Linked DNA regions of Homo sapiens: region 1 is linked to region 2. Evidence: fine-mapped expression QTL. A gene starts in region 2. The other region holds a variant in brackets. All regions are shown on one strand. Distances are from middle to middle.

Region 1 (5,000 bases), 63 kb before region 2:
CAACTGCTGGTAACAAATGAGAACCGAGAGTTTCATACACCTAAGGCTGCCAGTTGTGTTACCGACCTCTGTGTCGGTTTGCTGACCAGCTTGGAAAAGCAGCAGATGAAACACACACACACACACACACACACACACACACACACACACACACGCACATGCACACCCTCAGTGAGGAAAAGAGAAGTGGAGAGTCTCAAAGAAAAGTAAAAGTGACTGGTGACTGGATGGCATCTATCCTGAATGTGTCAAGAGCAGTGATGTGTCAGCCTAGGCCCCAGAGCCCCCAAGCTTCTTTCTAGAGCTGCCTGCTGGGAGAAATACCTAGACCAAGAGCTGCCTGGGCCTGAGTCCTTGACCCTTTGATGAAGACAGACCTTGACATTAGACCCTTTCCCATTACCTTTATCTATTGACTGCCAGCACCTGCACAGCTTAGGACTCTACCTTAGCCTCCCTCCTTGCCACAGTTCCCCAGCCAGGCCTGCTCCCAGCTGTTTAGTTCAGACACCAAATAGAAAATAAATAAACTCAAAGGATATAAACATTCCTAAGGGCTGCCAAGAGGGCTGATGCAAATCAAGAAGGTACAAGTGAGACAAAATCCACCCCATGCATCCTCTACTCTTTCCCAATACTGACCTGCTTTCTCCTTAACTGAATTCTCTTGTTCACCTGTTCAATCCATCCTAATCCCACCCACTAAGTCCCAGAGAGTTGGCCCTAACTCCTTGAACCTGCCTGCCAGTACTAACAGAGGCTCCTCAGCTCAACCTTCCTTATAGCAGTATTCTATTTGTTCAAGACTCAGTTTCCACACTTCTCCACCATATCCACTTCCCATCTCAGCCCATGAAGATTCAAGAACAACTAAATCTCAAATACATCCTGAGGTTTCTGTTCCAAAGGCAGAATTAACCCCAAATACAAATCCTTAGAAAACAGTCCCATTGCTTTAAGCTGAAGCCTAAAATGATGCATTACAATCAGTCCTCATCAGTAACTCCCACCTAAAACTTCTGTAGGACAGAAGTATTTTTACAAAATAATCACCCTTTTAGGGAGAAGGAGCAAAGCTCTAGGGAGATACGTCACTAATTCTTCCATCATGCTCTGACCTGGCTCAAGGTCTCTGAATGAGTCACTACTTGATAGTTCCTCACCCGCCTAAAACTGTGTCCTCCTAATTCTGTCTTTACTGCCTTTGTCTGAAGAGGCCTGACCTGGAGGCTTGGCCCAGGAAGGCTCACAGGTAGGGGATTTACTTGGAAACTTTTAGCATGTGAACATGAATGCTAGCAAAGGTGTCAACCAGCTATGAGACCCGAGGCAAATGCTTCACTTCCCCAGAGGGCCTGGGCCTCCCACATGGGGCTGTTATAGGGCAAAAAGAAGAGGAGATACTCTAGTCTCTTGCTGTGTCTGGATGGCCAAATTCATGACATAATAAGCATTTACACTGCAGAACCCAGTGGCCTCTTACTGATAGGCCAGGCAAAGAGCTAGAAATACCACACATACTCTGCCCCCTTCACTTAGGTTTACTGATTTACCCAGGTTGGTTCAGATCACCTGAAACAAACAAACAAAACTTTCCAGCAGGCAAGACTAATTTGCACTGAGATGACTAAATGGAATTTGAATGGTATTTATAAAAACCCACACACAGCCAATGATGCGCACGCACACACACACACACACACACACACACACAGAGATTAAAAAACCCACACAAGAGGAAGTTAAACTTTAACTCCATCCCATCTACTCTCATCTTTGCCAACAATTTCTTTAAAATGGATGTGCTGGACTGGATCATATCACTCTTTAAAACCACCCAACTGGAAACATTCATTTGTCTTCAAGGATCTTGATGATAAATTCAGTATAAAAATGAAACAGCAATTTAACTCGACAAGGTCCCAGCCCAGAATGGGCTTGGCTTTCCTGGGAAACCAAGAATTTGTGAATACTTGCTGCCTCACTGCCCACCCTCACCCCAGACCCTATTCCAGCTGGCATCAGAAGTACAAACAGATCAGTTTCCCATGCCCATAAATCCTTCCCTTGAGGTTAATTCAAGCAGCTATGCCAAGGAACCATGAGCATCCTGTTCTTATCCCCGGAAATGATTTTCCTTTGGTTCCCCTTGAACAAATGACACCATCTCTGACATCCAAGTTATCTCACAGAATTCAAAGAGATCACCCTGCCTAGTCCCTCACCTCAAGGAGGGAACCTACTTGAACCGTTCCACATAAAGGGGACTCTTCAGTTTGTGAAGAACCCCAGACAAGTTTTCATACAATATTCCTCAGGAAGTCTGACTCCAGTATACTCCAGTGTTCTCCTAATCACTACATTATTTACTGCATCAATCATGTAACATTAAGCTGTCTCATCTAAATCCTACCTA[C/T]TAAAATTTTAAGCCTGCTTTCTATTCACCTGCCAATGGCAGAATCTGCAAACTACAGGCCATGCTCTTCTGGATAAGAACTCTCATGGACTTGGTTACAATTGTTCTCTTCTATTCCCTGGATTTAATCCCAACCCTTTTAGCCTTGCCTCATAAATTTAAAATTTAAAACTCTGTTTTTTCACTTTCATGACTGCCATTTAGCTTCAGAATCTGGAGATAGAGAAAGGACTTTAGTCAGAGGATGACCAATTCACTGAGTAAAAAGGGACTTGTAACTATATTTGGAGAACAAGGTGATCCAGCTCTGGTCGAAGAGTTTCATACTACCCCAGTTAAACTGTAAGTTCCACCATATCCCAGATCATATATGAGGAGGGTTTATGGGTCCAGAGCAGGGTGCCTTACCTTCTGGGCTTGGGCAGGTTCAGTGAGGATGAGAGTAAACAGGCCCAGGCAGATTTCTTCATGCTGGGGGAGGCCTTTGCACACCTGGAATGTGAGAAAGGAAAACAAACTAGTTGTCACTCACAGGCAGTAAGTTCTCAAACTCAGTTTCTCCCAGAAAACATGGGACTCCTAAGGAAGATGCAAAGGAGAATAATCAACTTTTAAATCTGATGATTTCCTTCTCTTAAAAGAGATTTTTAAAAAAAGAAGAGAGATAAGGACGACAGGTGTGGTGGTGCACACCTGTAGTCCCAACTACTCCAGAGGCTGAAGCAGAAGGATCGCTTGAGCCCAGAAGTTCAAGGCTATAGTGCACTATAATCATGCCTGTGAACAATCACTGCATTCCAGCCTGGGCAACATAGCGAGACCACATTGCTATAAAAATAAAAAGCTGTACTGAAAGATGCCCAAGGCTCCAAGAGATAGGCTCCCACAGTAAAAGAGAAGAATTGAGAAATTTGATTCAGGGAGCCAAGACTTGATGAATTTCAGTCCCCTACCCCCAACCACTTAGTCTTTCCATCTTTTTGACCATGTTTCAAGACCTTCACAGCAGCAGCAGTGGCTGCAGGGACAGCATTCTACTTACATACGCATTGAGGGCATCATTGGCTTCTCTCTCCGAGACACCAGCAGTCATCGATGTCACAATGCTCATACACCTTTCCAATCTCTGGGAAGGGGTGAGAAAAAATGAACAGTGTGTCATAACACCACTTAGGAAGTACTTCTGGGCCCCTAAAAGTTTAACAATTCAAACCTGATCATGCCCATTGATCTAGCTGCCAGTTTACTTATAAAGTCACCATGAGGATAAAACCAGCAAAATCTAAAATGTGGAAACCATAAACAGGTGACCTGATTTCTTTAACACATAAATCGCAAGAAAAAAAGTGAGGGAAACCCATATATTAAGAGACTTAGGGCCAGGCGTGGTGGCTCATGCCTCTAATCCTAGCACTTTAGGAGGCCGAGGTGGGCAGATCACCTGAGGTCAGGAGTTCAAGACCAGCCTGGCCAACACGGTGAAACCCCGTCTCTACTGAAAATGCAAAAATTAGCCAGGCGCAGTGGCACATACCTGTAATCCCAGCTACCTGGGAGGCTGAGGCAGGAGAATCTCTGGAACCCGGGAGGCAGAGGCAGCAGTGAGCAGAGATCGCGCCATTGCACTCCAGCCTGGGTGACAGAGCGAGACCCTGTCTCAAAAAAATAAAATAAAATAGGGCGGGCACGGTGGCTCACACCTGTAATCCCAGCACTTTGGGAGGCCGAGGCAGGTGGATCACAAGGTCAGGAGTTTAAGACCAGCCTGACCAACATGTGAAACTCCGTCTCTACTAAAAATACAAAAAATTAGCCGGGCATGGTGGTGTGCGCCTGTAATCCCAGCTACTCAGGAGGAGGAGACTGAGGCAGGAGAATTGCTTGAACCCGGGAGGCAGAGGTTGCAGTGAGCAGACATCATGCCACTGCACTCCAGCCTGGGCGACAGAGCGAGACTCTGTCTCAAAAAAATATATTTTAATAAAGAAAATAAAATAAAAGGGACTTAGGCCAGATGCAGTGGCTCACGCCTGTAATCCCAGCACTTTGGGAGGCTGAGGTGGGCAGATCACCCGAGGTCAGGAGTTCGAGACCAGCCTGGCCAATATGGTGAAACCCTGTCTCTACTAAAAATACAAAAATTAGCTGGGTGCGGTGGTTCACACCTGTAATCCCAGCACTTTGGGAGGCCGAGGGGGTTGGATCACCAGAGGTGGGGAGTTCGAGACCAGCCTGACGAACATGGAGAAACCCCGTCTCTACAAAAATTAGCCTGGCATGGTGGCACATGTCTGTAATTCCAGCTACTCGGGAGGCTGAGGCAGGAGAATTGCTTAAACCCAGGAGGCAGAGGTCGAGGTGAGCCGAGATTGCATCATTGCACTCCAGCCTGGGCAACAAGAGTGAAACTCCGGCCGGGCGCGGTGGCTCACGCCTGTAATCCCAGCACTTTGGGAGGCCGAGGCGGGTGGATCACGAGGTCAAGAGATCAAGACTATCCTAGCCAACATGGTGAAAAAACCCTGTCTCTACTAAAAATACAAAAATTAGCTGGGCATTGTGGCACACGCCTGTAGTCCCAGCT
Region 2 (5,520 bases):
TCCCCCATGTGCCAGAGTCTCCGTCACTGCCTGGATATAGAGCAGGAGCCCGTCGTGGAAGGATGCTGGGATGGTGTTCACCTGTAGGGGCAAACAGAGGTCGGCTGGGGTGGGCATATGAAGGGCATGGAGGTGGGAGCTGTGGGGAAGGGAACAAGAGGCACTGGGATTTTGGAAGAGGATGGGAGAAAATAACACCCCTATATCACAGGGAGATTTTACTATTTAAACGATGCCTTTGGATTAGCATCACTTCCTGAATCCTACTAGGTAGACAGGGCAGGATGTATCGTCTCCATATTACTGATGATGACCTGAGTTTCAGAGGCTGAACTTGCCAGTGTCCTCCTCCATCATCACGAGAAACATGGAACAATGGGAAGGGAGGGAAGGAAGGGGAGAACTGGGAATAGGGAAGGATGGAGGCTGGCAGAGGGTCATGGAGTGGGGGCTGGAGGTCCACGCTGGAGGGTCCCGGGACCCCTTCTTACCAGGCCATCCTCCATGGTGAAGTTGAACTGCTCATAGGCCAGGTGTTTTAACTGCTTCAGGAATTCCAAGTACTCGGGATTATCTGGGTCTTTATATGTAATGATTTTGGCAGCCTGAGAAAGGGGTCAGTGGAGAGCAGAGAGTTGGGAGCTGACTATTCCCTAGTACTGTGGGGCCCCAACAGTTGGGAGCCCACCTCCCAGAGCTGCGTCTCTGCTTAGCTCAAGGTCAAACTGGACCCTATGCCCTGCATGAAGTGATGCCCATTCCAAAGCAGGGGATCCAATGGGATGCCTTCTCCAAGTCCTGTCCAGGCTGTGGGACTTTATCCTCCTCCCGCCTCAAGCCCATTTTCTTATCTTTTTAGCCTGCTGGTGGCGAAGCGCCCCTGGGCAGTCCCCTGCCCTTCATTGCCTAATTCCCAGTGAGCATCACCAACCTCTTTTCTGTTCTGTGAGTTACCAGGAGTGCATAAAGAAACAAACAGACAAAAACCTCTTTTCTGGAATTCTTTCAGACGCTGAGGGACACAGTGCCCAGAAATGATGTGCCACAAGCTGAGACAGCCTGGGCTTCAAACCTAGGTACTCACCTGAAAGGCCTGGCGGGCACTGACATCCTGCCCATCCCCTCTCTCCCAGGGCCTGCGGGGAGCAGGGCCCTGTCCACCTTGCAGGCTTTGCCCAAAGATATCCAGGTGGAAGAAAACGTAGTCCTCCCCACACAAGCCAGCTTCCAGGGCCAGGAGCATGAGGGTTCTGAAGGCATCAGGGGAGCTGCAGATGTAGATAACTGGAGAAAGACGGAGAGTCAGAGAGAGAAGCCTAGGTACTGCGGGAGAGACAGGAGTAGGAAAGCTGGGGCACCCAAGGGAGGAAGTTTAGAGATAGGGTGCAGGAGAGACCCAGTGAGAGTTAAGTGGTAACTCCCGGCTCAGCCTAGGCCACAGCAGGAGAAAGTCGAAGGGTGGAACGGGCGGGTGCGGGGCGGTGGGCGGGAGGAGGAAGGGGGAGGCGGAAGGGAGGAAGGAACGGGTAGGGAGAGGGGGATAGTGGAGCTGAAGGTGGAGAAGGATGGGGCCAGGAGGGAGAGAGGAGGGAGAGGGAGGGGGAGAAGAGAGGGGATGAGGCGCAATGAGAGGAGAGGATGAAAGAAGGGAGAAGGCTATAGGGAAGAGAGAAAATGTGGGAGGGAAAAAGGGACCGGAACCGAGCTGTGCTAGGGTGGGAGGGAATGAGTGGGGGTCGGGGAGATGAGAGGATAGAGACGTGGTGGGGGTGGCGGAAGAAGAGAGGGAAATAGAAACTCAGCTGTAGAAAGGGCCAGGGAGCTGAAAGTAGAATGAAGAACGGCGAGGAGAAAGAAGAGTGCCCCCAGATGAGAGAGAAAGTCCCGATGCCTCCGGCAGGTCAGAGGGGAGGCCCTGCGGCTAAGCGGCGGGACGGGGTGTGCCAGCGTCTCACCTCGGCCTTTGCGCGGCATGGTCCGCAGCAGCCTGGTGTAGTGGCTGAGGTCGTCCTCGGCGAACTCCAGGTGGTCCACCGTAATATTGAGGCGGTCGCGGACCCGCATGAACAGCCCCTCCACGAGGAAGAAGCAGTGCTCTTCGTCACCCGGCCGGTAGGCGTAGAGCATGAGCGCTTGGCGCTCCCAGCCCAGCCGTCGGTGCAGCGCCGCCACGAAGTCCCCCAGCTTGGCGTAGCTGGGCCCCGCGCGGGTGGTCAGCGCATACTCGTCCTTGACACCGAAGCCCAGCGCCGGGGCGCCGGCGGTCAGCAGCGGGACCCGCCAGTGCGCGGTGAAGCGCCCCACTGGGGCGGCGGCGTACACGCAGCCGGGGCCCAGGAACACAGCGGGGTTGTGCTCCCACTTGAGGTCCACCGCGGCCAGGGGCGCTGCGGTGTCGGAGCAGACGCCCAGCGCGTTTTCGCTGCTGCCCAGCACCGTGCGGACCGTCCAGCCCGGCAGCAAGTCGGGGCGCGCCTTCACCTGGGCCAGGGCCAGCTCCACGGCGGGTCCCACGCGCGCCCACGACCAGGGGTACGAGGTATTGGCCAGCGGCAGTACCACGGCTACCGTCAGGTTGCCCGCGTGGCTGCCCCGGAGCAGCAGCAGCAGCGGCGGCAGCAGCAGGAGCAGGAGCAGGCGCAGGCGGGAGCCAGCGGGGCGCCGGGGCCCCGGCATGGCCTCAGCGGGCACCGCAGCAGGCGAGCGCTCCTACCATGGCCTCCTCGGTCCCCTTGGGCTCAGCGGCCGGTCCCAGGCATCAGGCGCGTCCCTATGGGAAGGAGCAGGAGCGGGACGGGGACGCTCACCCCGGGGCTCGAGGCCCCCTGTAGCTGCGACGGTCTGGGCCGAGAGCGCAAGGGGCGCGACCGAGGGGGGCGCGCAGGGCGCCGCGGAGCAGGTGGGTGCCAGGAGAACGTCGGGCTGGAGAGGACCCGAGTGTGAACAACTGGGAGTGTGCGTGCGTGTTAGAGAGAGAGAGAGAGAGAGAGAAAGGGTGCGAGTGAGCGCTTCGTGAAGAAGGATGAGAGAGGGCGCGCGAGGGAGGAAAGAGGAGTGTGTGTTTGTAGCGTGCGTGAGCGCCTGCCCCAGGGAGTGTGCCAGAAGGGGCGTCCGGCCGGCCCAAGTCTCCGGCTATCCGGAGGGAACCGTGGAGGACCCGAGCCAAGCTCCGAACCCTCCCTCCCAGCCGCTTCCCCTCCCAGACTCAGTGACAGAAGAGCCAATCCAGGATCTTTAACTCCTTCCTCCCCGCCGCCCAGCCCGCGCGCTTCCCCGTGGACCATCTTCCCCGGTCTCGGCCGCCCCACGCCTACCTCTTTGGAGGACAGGACCCTCTGAAGGTGCGCCCTCGCCGGGATGGAAAGGACGGCTGAACGGAGGGTGTGTGTGGAAGCAACCGGGGCCCACTTGCGCCCCACCTTTTCCCTCGCCTCCTACCTGGTCTCCTCGGGGGAAGAGGGAAAGGTGTGCTGGTTTGGGATCCTGGCAGGAAACTGAGTGAGTGCGTGGATGTGTGTGTTTGGGTGTGGGGTGGAAGGTGACGGGTTTCTGGAAAGTCCGTTAAAGTTGAAGGTGAGCCCAGAGTGCTTGTTACCCATTCCTTCTATGATCTCCCTCTCTTTCCCTCCCTGCCACCTTCCAGACTGTGCAGATTAGCTGTGAAAAAATGATCTGGTGTCAGAGAGGAATTAAATCTTTAGCGCCCAAATTGTAGGAAGATGGGGAGAGTGGGTGGGTGTCTGGGAGGGAGGAGGTTCACACCTCAGGGACGCCCCAAGAAAATGACTGTTTTGTGTTGAGGGTTGTTAAAATGAAGGCTGTGGGAGATGACCACTGGAGGCGTAAATTGGGGAGTGGGTTTTGGAGCACTTGACAGCTGGGCCCCCGGTGCAGACTGCTGTGGAATCAGTGTGCCCTCTAATGGTCATCGGGGGTTATTGACGGCATTGCAGCGCCAACCTCTCCAACGCTGCGCCTAAGCAGGACATAAGATCACCAAACTTCAGGTCAGCAAACATTTCCAGAGAACCTTCGGTGCATTAAGCACCCACTAGGTGCCGAGGGCATAAAGATGAATATATATAGTCCGTGCCTTTGAGGAGCTCCATTTGGGACAAATAACCGTAATGCAACATGCATTAAGCACTACAGGGGAGACATGGATAAATTGCTAAAGGACTCAGATGAGGGCTATTCATTCTGCTTGGATTGGGGCCAGAAAATCTCCAAAAAAGAAATAATTCAAGAGGATGGAAGGATGAGAAAGGTATTCTGTGTAGACAGAGCAGAATGTTGAAGTACATTTCCTATATATGGAATTTTAGGAGACTTGAATATTCTTATTATCTAGAGCAAATTGTGGTCGATAGGCCAACTTGAGATGGCAGGCATGCTTTGGCTTGCATTCTCTTTATGTATATTGTATTTAATTCCCCACACTTAAATATCATAAGATGGGGCCGGGCAAGGTGGCTCAAGCCTCTAATCCCAGCACTTTGGGAGGTCAGGGTGGGTGGATCATGAGGTCAGGAGTTCAAGATCAGCCTGGCCAAGATGGTGAAACCCCGTCTCTACTAAAAATACAAAAATTAGCCAGACATGGTGGCGGCCGCCTGTAATCCCAGCTACTTGGGAGGCTGAGGTAGAGAATTGCTTGAATCCGGGAGACAGAGGTTGCAACGAGCCGAGATTGCGCCACTGCACTCCAGCCTGGGCAACAGAGCAAGACTCCGTCTCAAAAAAAAAAAAAAAAAAAAGATGGTACATGAATATTTGGATTTCTGACTTTTTTTTTTTTTTCCTTCAAAGATGGAGGTCTCCCTATGTTGCCCAGGCTGGTCTTGAACTCCTAGGCTCAAGCGATCCTCTTGCATTGGCCTCCCAAAATTCCTGGATAACATGTGTGAGCCACCAGGCCCAACCTGGATTTCTGACTTTCCTTAAAATATTGGAAGAGCTGGCAATATATTGTCCTGCATCCCTCCATGAGCAATTAACCAGAGCAAGTATCCATTATCTCCTTGAAATGAGTCTAGTTCATTATGGTTCCTAGGCACCCTGCTTCACTCAGGTGCATTACCTGCCTGGCTGTAGTAGGAGTTTGTGTTTTCAGCCCTGATCTAGGATGTAAGGTGTGTGCATGTAGGATGACTGAGGAAGAGAGGCAGGGAAGAGGGCAGTGGAGGGAAGATTATGAAAGCTTTTGTGTGACAGGCATAATGTTCTTGTCCTGTAATGGAGATGGCGGATTCCAGAGATTGTAGAGGTAGACAGCAGATGCAGATGGGGAGATGTTTTGTAAGTAGAATCAGTTGAACTTTGGGAAGTGAGGACATTATACAAATAACAGATCTAGGTGATGTTGATCCCATTAGCTGAGAAGCTGAAGAAGGTTTTGGAAGGATGATACTTTTAGTTTATTGGATGTGAGGTGCCTATAGATAATCAAGTGGAAGTGTCTGATAGGCCTCGGACTAGTGGAGCTGGAGCTCAGAAGAAATGACTGGACTAGAAATATAG

Direction of the effects. Alleles are on the strand shown, and positions count from the first base shown. SD is a standard deviation of normalised expression in the study named.
With allele T in place of C in region 1, the expression in esophagus muscle of the gene that starts at base 3,097 in region 2 is higher (small effect, 0.17 SD a copy in GTEx).

Evidence for each region. PIP is the estimated chance that this variant, and not a neighbour inherited with it, causes the effect.
Region 1: its variant is the best candidate, but not a certain one, in a credible set for the expression of NPR1 in esophagus muscle (GTEx, PIP 0.52).

What each region holds. Positions count from the first base shown.
Region 1 is chr1:153,739,193-153,744,192 of GRCh38, reverse strand. It overlaps INTS3 (integrator complex subunit 3), which reads right to left. Exons shown (of 30, transcript NM_023015.5): 2 at 3,459-3,542; 3 at 2,825-2,908. Among named protein-coding and RNA genes, the nearest start is that of INTS3, 14 kb to the right of the region's middle. The variant C/T (reference allele first, on the strand shown) is at 2,417.
Region 2 is chr1:153,676,265-153,681,784 of GRCh38, reverse strand. NPR1 (natriuretic peptide receptor 1) reads right to left here and starts at 3,097. Exons shown (of 22, transcript NM_000906.4): 1 at 1,956-3,097; 2 at 1,085-1,284; 3 at 492-605; 4 at 1-81. The coding sequence starts at 2,676. RefSeq lists a silencer at 2,297-2,356 and enhancers at 1,898-2,878, 2,879-3,860.